Linked DNA regions of Homo sapiens: region 2 is linked to region 1. Evidence: fine-mapped expression QTL. A gene starts in region 1. The other region holds a variant in brackets. All regions are shown on one strand. Distances are from middle to middle. Region 1 holds the start of LINC02688 (long intergenic non-protein coding RNA 2688). Region 2 has its middle 7.1 kb from the start of AP2A2.

Evidence for each region. PIP is the estimated chance that this variant, and not a neighbour inherited with it, causes the effect.
Region 2: its variant is the best candidate, but not a certain one, in a credible set for the expression of LINC02688 in hippocampus (GTEx, PIP 0.67).

Annotation. Positions count from the first base shown.
Region 1 is chr11:1,048,009-1,052,388 of GRCh38, reverse strand. It overlaps LINC02688 (long intergenic non-protein coding RNA 2688), which reads right to left and starts at 2,509. Exons shown (of 4, transcript NR_160890.1): 1 at 2,427-2,509; 2 at 546-766. It overlaps LOC124902605, which reads right to left and starts at 2,697. Exons shown (of 4, transcript XM_047427955.1): 1 at 2,615-2,697; 2 at 2,427-2,510; 3 at 546-766.
Region 2 is chr11:916,559-920,938 of GRCh38, reverse strand. No RefSeq gene overlaps it. Among named protein-coding and RNA genes, the nearest start is that of AP2A2, 7.1 kb to the left of the region's middle. RefSeq lists enhancers at 257-756, 1,436-1,730. The variant C/A (reference allele first, on the strand shown) is at 2,102.

The DNA.
Region 1 (4,380 bases):
GGAGCCATGGCCACAGCGTGGGGGCAGGTGCCCCAGGAGGGGGAGGGGAGGGCATGGCCTTGGTTGCTACCAGCCCCCGCACTGGCATTCGGGCAGCATGGGGGCACATTTTGGGCCTGGGGGACTGTGCCATCGTGGCCAGGAGCACCTTGAGAAGCCAGGAGGGCTGGCCAGGGTGGGGCAGAGCAGAGCAGGGCAGGGACAATCTGCCCAGACGTCTCACCACCCCTCAGACACCCCCAGACTTGCCTGGGCCAGGATAAATACGCAGTCCTTGCCCCAAGGCCCAGAATTAGGTACGTGGGTACCTGCATGTCTGGCCGGGTCCCCTGCCTCTCTGTGCAGAATCCTGATGCCCCCTGGCAGGCCTAGGGGTTCAGCAGAAGCAGGTTGCAGCCCCCACACCCCTCTAATGGGCCACATAGAAGGTGGGCCAAGGGCAGTGGATGGGGGGCCTGGGACACAGCAGCTGGGACACTGCCCCAGGACCAGGGTCGGGTCCAGGAGTGGAGAACCCAGGGCAGTGACGGGGAGAGCAGACAGACCTGGGTTGAGATGGTGTCTGGGTGGGAGTCCAGGGGGCCGGGGGCCCAGCTTCCCAGGTGCCAGGGGAGCCCCCGCCCCTGAGTCCTTGGTGAGCTGAGTCTCCAGGGTGTGGTGCTCCCAGCATCCTAGCCAGGCCTTGTGGCTGCAGAGGGACAGAAACCAGGCCCAGCTTCCTGCTGGGGGGGTCACCTCTCCCCAGGGGTCCAGGACACCGCTGCATCTGAAAATGAGCAGGAAAGGGGTGCTCAGTGCAGCCTCAGGGCCTTGGGGACCCCCTTGGATCTTGCCAGCTCCCGAAATGCAGAGAGAGAGTCGGGCAGTGGGGCCAGGGCTACAGCCCCCATGTCTCCTCAACGTCTGCCTGGCTCTGTCTACCTCAGGGAACCAGGGCTCCTCATACCGGACCTGGCCTCTACCCGCCCAGGGCGCTTGGAGCAAAGACTGTGGTCCCAGGTTCCCCGACAGTGGAAGCTTCCCTGCCCAGCCCAAGCCGTCTGCAGCCAGACCAGAGGCTGGTGTGGCACCATGGAAGGTTCCGGAGGGCGAGAGCCGTGATGCTGTAGCCCGCCAGCAGGTGGCACCTGGCACCCGCACCACAGCCCGGAGGAGGGCTGGGCAAGGCGTGTGCTCAGGGCCGTGTGGCCCAGGTGTGTGCCTGCGTGTGCCTGCATGTTGGCAAGTCCGGTGCCCGGGTGGCTCTCAGGCATCTTGGGGAGAACAGTCAGCCCACAGCCGGGCCAGAGCCCTCTGGCCCCATTGATGGGAGGCTCTGGGACAGACAGCACTGAGAAGGGAGAGAAGCTGGGCAGGTGGGGCAGGTGGGGCCACCGGGCAGGCGTGAGGGTGACCCTGCCAAGTGGCACAGGGACGATCTGAGTCCTGCAGGGCCCGGCAGCGCCTGAATAATGGGAGAAGCTGTGTGAGCCGTGCACGGGCGGGACAGCAAGGCGGGCGGGCGTGGGTCCTGTACACACGGGTGTGGGTGTGGCTGAGCGACCACTCGCCCTCTCACATCCCCTGCAGTGAGCGTGGGGGCACTGGCCCCTCATTTCCCAGCCCCGCTGGGCCCACCTCCTGCCTGGCCCTCCCAGGGACTGACGTGTGGCCACCTACCCCTCGAACCGCAGGGGTTGCCTGTCCCCGCCTCTGTCCCTGCACCTCAGGCCCATCCCCGCCCTTGTCCCCGCACCTCGGGCCTGTCCCCGCCTTTGTCCCCGCAACTCAGACCTTTGGTGACACCTGTGGGCTCAGGCGCCACATGGGGCCCAGGACACTGGGGCCGCAGCACATCGGGGAGGGGAGGCTGCAGTCTGGGCCCAAGGGCATCCAGCCTCTCCACTCCCTCCCCGGTGACCTTGGGCAGGCTGCCCCCTCTCTGTGCCTGTTTCCTCATCTACGTGGGTACAGAACCCGTCTCCACCTGCAGTAAATCCAGTGATGGCGGGAGTGTCCCGCCAGCTGCACTCTAGGACCCGTTCGCTACAAGGATTGCACTGGGGGATGCCCTGTCCCCAGCTGGCCCGGCTCTGTCATGGCCTGGACCCTCCCTGCCTGGGCACGTCTGACCCAGAGAGAGGGAAGGCCACCAGGGCAACCCCAGAGGCCTGTCCAGCTCAGAGCCAGCCCCTCCTGCACCAGGGTCCCCTGAGATTCACCCTGACAGGCAGCAGGAAGGCAGGGTGCCTGGTGGCCTCCTTCCCCCAGGGATCTGGGGAGGGTCTGGGCTGGGCTCTTCTTTGACAGGCCGCCCGGGCCCCACCTCAGGCCTGGAGGAAAGTGGAGGGGTCCACACCGTGGCCGACCCTGGGACTGGAGACACATGGGCACCAGGACACGCGAGGCCCATGGGGGCCAGGGAAGTCCCCAGAATCCCCACTCACCACTCTGGGGTGGGAAGAGGCAGGGCCAGCCTGTCGACATGCATCTCCTGCTGTCCAGAGAATGCTCCCGACGTCCCCATTTTCCTACAGAAGAGGACATCCTTGCTGGGAAGCCGGTGGCTGCAGCCAGTCAATGGTGACTCCCAGAAGGTTCCAGGCCCCGCCCAGCCAGAACCCCAGAGCCAGACCTGGGGCCACAGGGCATGACGCAGCTCTGCCTATACAGGGACAGGCAGCTGCCCACGGCCATGGGCACAGGCTTTGAGGAAGCGACAAGGCTCTTGCACCAGCAGATTAAAATGCTGCCAAGCGGAAGAGTCTGTCAAAGCTCTCAAGGAGCAGCTGGTTCAGGGCCAGCAGGTGCTGGGGTGGTAGGGGGGCCCCTTGGCTGCTGTGACGGTGCCTGTCCCTGGCTCCCAGCCCGGGAGCCCCAGCAGTGCCTTGTACAGCCGGCCCAGACATGCAAAGGGCCAGAGCCCGGCACGCGGCAGTGTTGACTGTCATCATTGTTATTGCCATCATCATCATCATCATCATCATTGCTATTATTATATTATCATCAGGAAACTCACCTACATTCTGCAGGCTGTGGGTGAGGCCAAGGAGCAGAGGGCTGGGGGTTGATGTGGGCCGGCAAGGTCCAGGCCAGGAGGGTTCATCCCAGGGATGCCAAGACCCAGCAGAAGGTTAGCAGGGGAGGAGAGACCCTTACCCCAGGGTGACCCCACGGCGGGGGCTGCATGTGGGCACCAACTGGAGGCCTGCGGGAGGCAGGTGTGGCTCGGAGGCTCTTTGGCAAGGTGGGAGCCGGGGGTCCCTTAAGAAGTCCACCTTAAGAGGTCCTCCAGAGTGACCCAGGGAGAACCATTCTCCAACCCACCCACTCCTGGATCTCAGGCTCCCAGGACGCAGAGAGACTCTGAGCCATCTCCCGGGTTGTGCTGCTTGGTTATGGTGGCCCCAGGAAAGCGAATCAAGAGTTGCAGCAATGCTGCCCAGCCCCACGAGCAGGGAAACCAGAGCCAGGAGGTGGCGATAGGGACTGCGGGTGGGTGGACCGCGGGGCTGGGGTGTGTTCTCTTCCTGCTACTCTTCTACATTTTTCCAGGTTTTATTTAGTGACTATGTTCCACTCTGTATTAAAGTATCAAGATTCCATTTCATCAAGGACTAGCATTTTTAGCAAAGAGAGTAGCAGAGGCCAGGATTTAGCAACTAAAAAACTCCAGGAAATATGGGAAACAACATCTGTCAAGACGGTGGACATCAGGCGACGAAGAGAGTGGTCCCAGAGAGACAGCGGGTCCCTCCAACCTGGCTGCTATCCGGAAACGCCATGGCCTGAGCGGCATAAAAGCAACAGACACGCATCTCCACGGCTGCAGAGGACGGGACGTTCAAGATCCACACTCTGGCAGATTCGATGTCTGGTGAGGCCACTCCCTGGTTCACGGACGGCACCTTCCCACTGGGTCCCCTTCGCCTCTGGTAGAAGGGGTGGGAGAGCTCTCTGAGGTCTCTTTTTTTTTTTTTTCGAGACAGGGTCTCACTCTGTCACCCAGGCTGGAGTGCAGTAGCACAATCTCGGTTCACTGCAAGCTCACTTCCCAGGTTCGAGTGATTCTCCGCCTCAGCCTCCCGAGTAGCCGAGATTACAGGCGCCCACCACCATGCCCAGCTAATTTTCATATTTTTAGTAGAGACAGGGTTTCTCCATGCTGGCCAGGCTCATCTCGAACTCCTGAACTCAGGTGATCCACCTGCCTCGGCCTCCCAAAGTGCTGGGATTACAGGCGTGAGCCACCGCGCCCGGCTCTGGGATCTCTCCTGTAAGGACACTAACCCCATTCTTGAGGGCTCTGCCACCTCCCCAAGTCCCCACCTCCTAATATCGTCACCTTGGGCACCAGGATTTCAACACAGGAACCGGAGGGTGGGGAAGACACAAACGTTC
Region 2 (4,380 bases), 130 kb after region 1:
CTGGAGGTTGCAGTGAGCCAAGATCCCACCATTGCACTCCAACCTGGGCAACAGAGCAAGACTCTGCCAAAAAAAAAAAAAAAAAAAGCCAGGCACAGTGGCTCACACCTGTAATCCCAGCACTTTGGGAGGCCAAGGCAGGTGGATCACGAGGTCAGGAGTTCAAGACCACCCTGGCCAACATGGTGAAACCCAGTCTCTACTAAAAATACAAAAAATTAGCTGGGCGTGCTGGCGGGAGCCTATAGTCCCAGCTACTCCGGAGGCTGAGGCAGGAGAATGGCGTGAACCCGGGAGGCGGAGCTTGCAGTGAGCCAAGATTGCGCCACTGCACTCCAGCCTGGGCAACAGAGCGAGACTCAAACAACAACAACAACAAACAAACAGCTCCCTGACCATCACCTGATGGTCAACTGACTTTCCTGGTTGGGGGACGGGGAGCAGGGGAGCCCTCTCCCGCACCGCTCACGTCTGACTGGCTACCTACTGTAATAGGAAGGCAACGTGGAAATCCTGGGAGCCCCCTTCCCAACCCAAGGGGTAGACCAGTGGCGCGGCTGACGACTAGTGACACCCTCAGAGGGTCTGATGGGACAGGCCAGGGTATATAGCCTGAGTGCTGCGGTTTTTAAGAGCACACGAGGCAGTTCTGAGGTGTGACCCATTTTACCAGCCTGACTAGCCCGCACTGGACTTCCATGCTGTCAGACGCCAACCACACGGTGTTATAGCACATGCCCATTCCGATCCCCTGCCCAGCCAGCCTGGCAGCAAAGTGGGGCTGGGGGACTGTCATGAACCTCTGTGGCCTCACTCACTGACAATGCCAAGGAAAGCCACTGTCCTGGCCATTTCTCCCACGGCAGCAAATCCCATCAGCCCAGGCCCACGCCTTGGCCTCCCAAAGTGCTGGAATTACAGGTGTGAACCACTGTGCTCGGCCCAGCTCTGGGAATTCTAATATTAAAAGGAAGAGTGAAAGAATGTAAACTAAGAAAAAACCCACAACCGGCCAGGCATGGTGGCTGACCCCTGTGATCCCAGCCCTTTGGGAGGCCAAGGCAGGTGGATCACTTGAGGTCAGGAGTTTGAGACCAGCCTGGCCAGCATGGTGAAACCCCGTGTCTACTAAAAATATGAAAATTAGCCAGGCATGGTGGCGGGCACTTGTAATCCCAGCTACTGGGTAGGCTGAGGCACGAGAATTGCTTGAACCCTGGAGGTGGAGGTTGCAGTGAGCCAAAATCACACCACCGCACTCCAGCCTGAGTGACATGAGTGAGAGTCTGTCTCAAAAAAAAAAAAAAAAAAGAAAGAAAGAAAGAAAAAGAAACAAGGAAAAAACCCACAGCCTCTGGCACTCCAAATGTACAGAGAGTGTCAGCACTGCTGATTGCTTCGGGCCTAGCAGGGATGGTAGGACACCTTTATTACCTCCCTGCAGAGCTGAGCCAGAGTTCTCTGCTGGTTTAATTCCCGGGGACTCGGATGTCACATGGTTCACTGGCTACCCAATGAGCAGGAAGCAGCATGTACACTGTGTGCCCTGCAGACCTGCACGTGTGCCGACGGCAGAGACTGCGAGTCCAGCCCTGCCGCTGAATCTCCCCTCCTTCTACAGTAGCTGATCTCCTGACTTGGTGGGCATGTGGCCGCCCAGAATCAAGACTACATTTCCCAGCCTCCTATGCAGCTAGGCATTGCCTGGTGATAGCAGAACGTGCAGGGAGATTGTATCTGGGCCTGCCCTGCAATGTACCATAGCCTGGGCAGTTGGAACAACAGAAATTTGTCTTCCTATAGTCCTGGAGGCTGGAAGTCCAAGATCAAGATGTCCACCGGGGCCGGGCCCGGTGGCTCACACCTGTAATCCCAGGACTTTGGGAGGCCGAGGAGGGCGGATCACGAGGTCAGGAGATCAAGACCATCCTGGCTAACATGGTGAAACCCCGTCTCTACTAAAAATACAAAAAATTAGCCGGGCGTGGTGGTGGGCGCCTGTAGTCCCAGCTACTCGGGAGGCTGAGGCAGGAGAATGGCGTGAACCCAGGAGGCGGAGCTTGCAGTGAGCCGAGATCGCACCACTGTACTCCAGCCTGGG[C/A]GACAGAGCGAGACTCCATCTAAAAAAAAAAAAAAAAAAAAGATGTCCACCGGCATGCTCTTCCTGAGGCCTCTCTCCTTGGCTTTATGGATGCCATCTTCTCCCTGGGTCTGCACAGGGTTGTCCCTAGGTACTCCTCTGTGTCCTCATCTCCTCTTTTTTTTTTTTTTTTTTTTGAGATGGAGTTTTGCTCTTGTCCCCCAGGCTGGAGGACAATGGCATGATGTCAGCTCACTGTAACCTCCGCCTCCCGGGTTCAAGTGATTCTCCAGCCTCAGTCTCCTGAGTAGCTGGGATTACAGGCATGTGCCACTACATCCAGCTAATTTTTTTTTTTAAACTTTTAGTAGAGCTGTGGTTTCACTGTGTTTTCCAGGCTGGTCTCAAACTCCTGGCCTCAAGTGGTCTGCCCGCCTCGGCCTCCCAAAGTGCTGGGATTACAGGTGCAAGCCACTGTGTAAGGCCATAATCTCCTCTTCTAAAAAGGACACCAGTCCTATTGGATTAGGGCCCACCTTACTGACCTCATCTGAACTAATTACATCTGCCACAATCCTCCAAATTAGGTCACATCCTGGGGCACTGGGGTTAGGACTTAATATATGTGTTTTTAGGAAATAAAATTCACCCCGTAACAGAGGTGACGTGTGCCCATTTGGGGCAGGATGTTGAATTCCTGCCTGCCTTTCCACCCCCTCCTCAGAACACAGTTTGAGGGCTAACACTCCGTCAGGAACAGCATGGCTGGGGGCTCTGCCACACTCAGACAAACCTAGATCCTAACAAACACCTAATGATTACCAGGCCTCAGTGTGCAAGGTGCACCCTAAGGACAACGTGGGGGGCGTCATAAAGCCTCTGGGGCTCCAGGGCATATCGGGACGTCCCCCATTCTGTCCTGTGTCTCATCATCAGTACCGCCAAGCCCATTCCCACAGGCACCATCAGTCATCAGTAAATGCTCCCCCACCTCCCCAAATGCCCAAAGCCACACAGGAGCCATACAGCAGGTGACACCAGCTGGGGGAGGGGTGGGGAGGTGCCATGAAAATCCTGTTGTTCCCCCACCCACAGATGCTGCTACTCCTGGCCTCCTGTTAGCCCCAGAGCAGGAGTCTATAGCCTCTGGGCTCCCTCAGACCCCCGTGGAGCAATGCCCCCCGGCTCTACTGGCCAGACCAGCTGAGGCCAGACCGGCCCTGCCCACAGTCAGTTTCCCAGCACCCGAGGGGCTCCCTGGCCAGGGGGTTCTGCAGCAAGCACTTCCTTCCGGGCGGGCCAGCACCCACCCACCTGGCCTCCAGCCCAGGCTTCTCTGTGGGCCCAGCCAGGTGAACTGGTGGAATATTCGTCAATTTTAAGGTTGGTCTGAGAAAAAGAAAGTTAGAAAATAAGCACGGCACAGTGGCTGACACCTGTAATCCCAGCACTTTGGGAGGCCGAGGCGGGCAGATCACCTGAGGTCAGGAGTTCAAGACCAGCCTGGCCAACATGGTGAAACCTTATCTCTACTAAAAATACAAAAATTAGCCGGGCATGGTGGCGGGTGCCTGTAATCCCAGCTACTCGGGAGGCTTAGGCAGGAGAATTGCTTGAACCCAGGAGGTGGAGGTTGCAGTGAGCCAAGATGGTGCCACTGCATTCCAGCCTGGGCGACAGAGCGAGACTCCAAAAAAAAAAAAAGGAAATAAAGCATACTGACTAAAATTATCACTGCAGGCTTTCCAAATGGCCATATGAGCTTCCTAGGACTCTCTGAAAAATGACCACAAACCAGAGGCTGCAACTCAACAGAAACGCATTCTGGCCTCGCCGTTCGAAAGGCAGAAGCAGGTGTCAGTGGGGTTCGTTCCTTCTGGAGGCCCCACCCCCACGTTCACCCCTTGTATCTCTCTCAGTGCTGCCTCTCCCTTCTGTTCCCTTTTTTTTTTTTTTTTTTGAGACGGAGTCTCACTCTGTTGCCCAGGCTGGAGTGCAGTGGCGAGACCTTGGCTCACTGCAACCTCTGCCTCCTAGGTTCAAGCGATTCTCCTGCCTCAGCCTCCTGAGTAGCTGGGACTACAAGCGTGTGCCACCACACCCAGATAATTTTTGTATTTTTAGTAGAGATGGGGTTTTGCCATATTAGCCAGGCCGGTCTTGAACTCCTGGCCTCAAGTGATCCACCCGCCTCAGCCTCCCAAAGTGCTGGGATTAGCATGAGCCACTGTGCCCGACCTCCCTTCTCTTCTTACAAGGACCCCTGTCATTGGATTTAGGGCCCACCCTATATCCAGAAT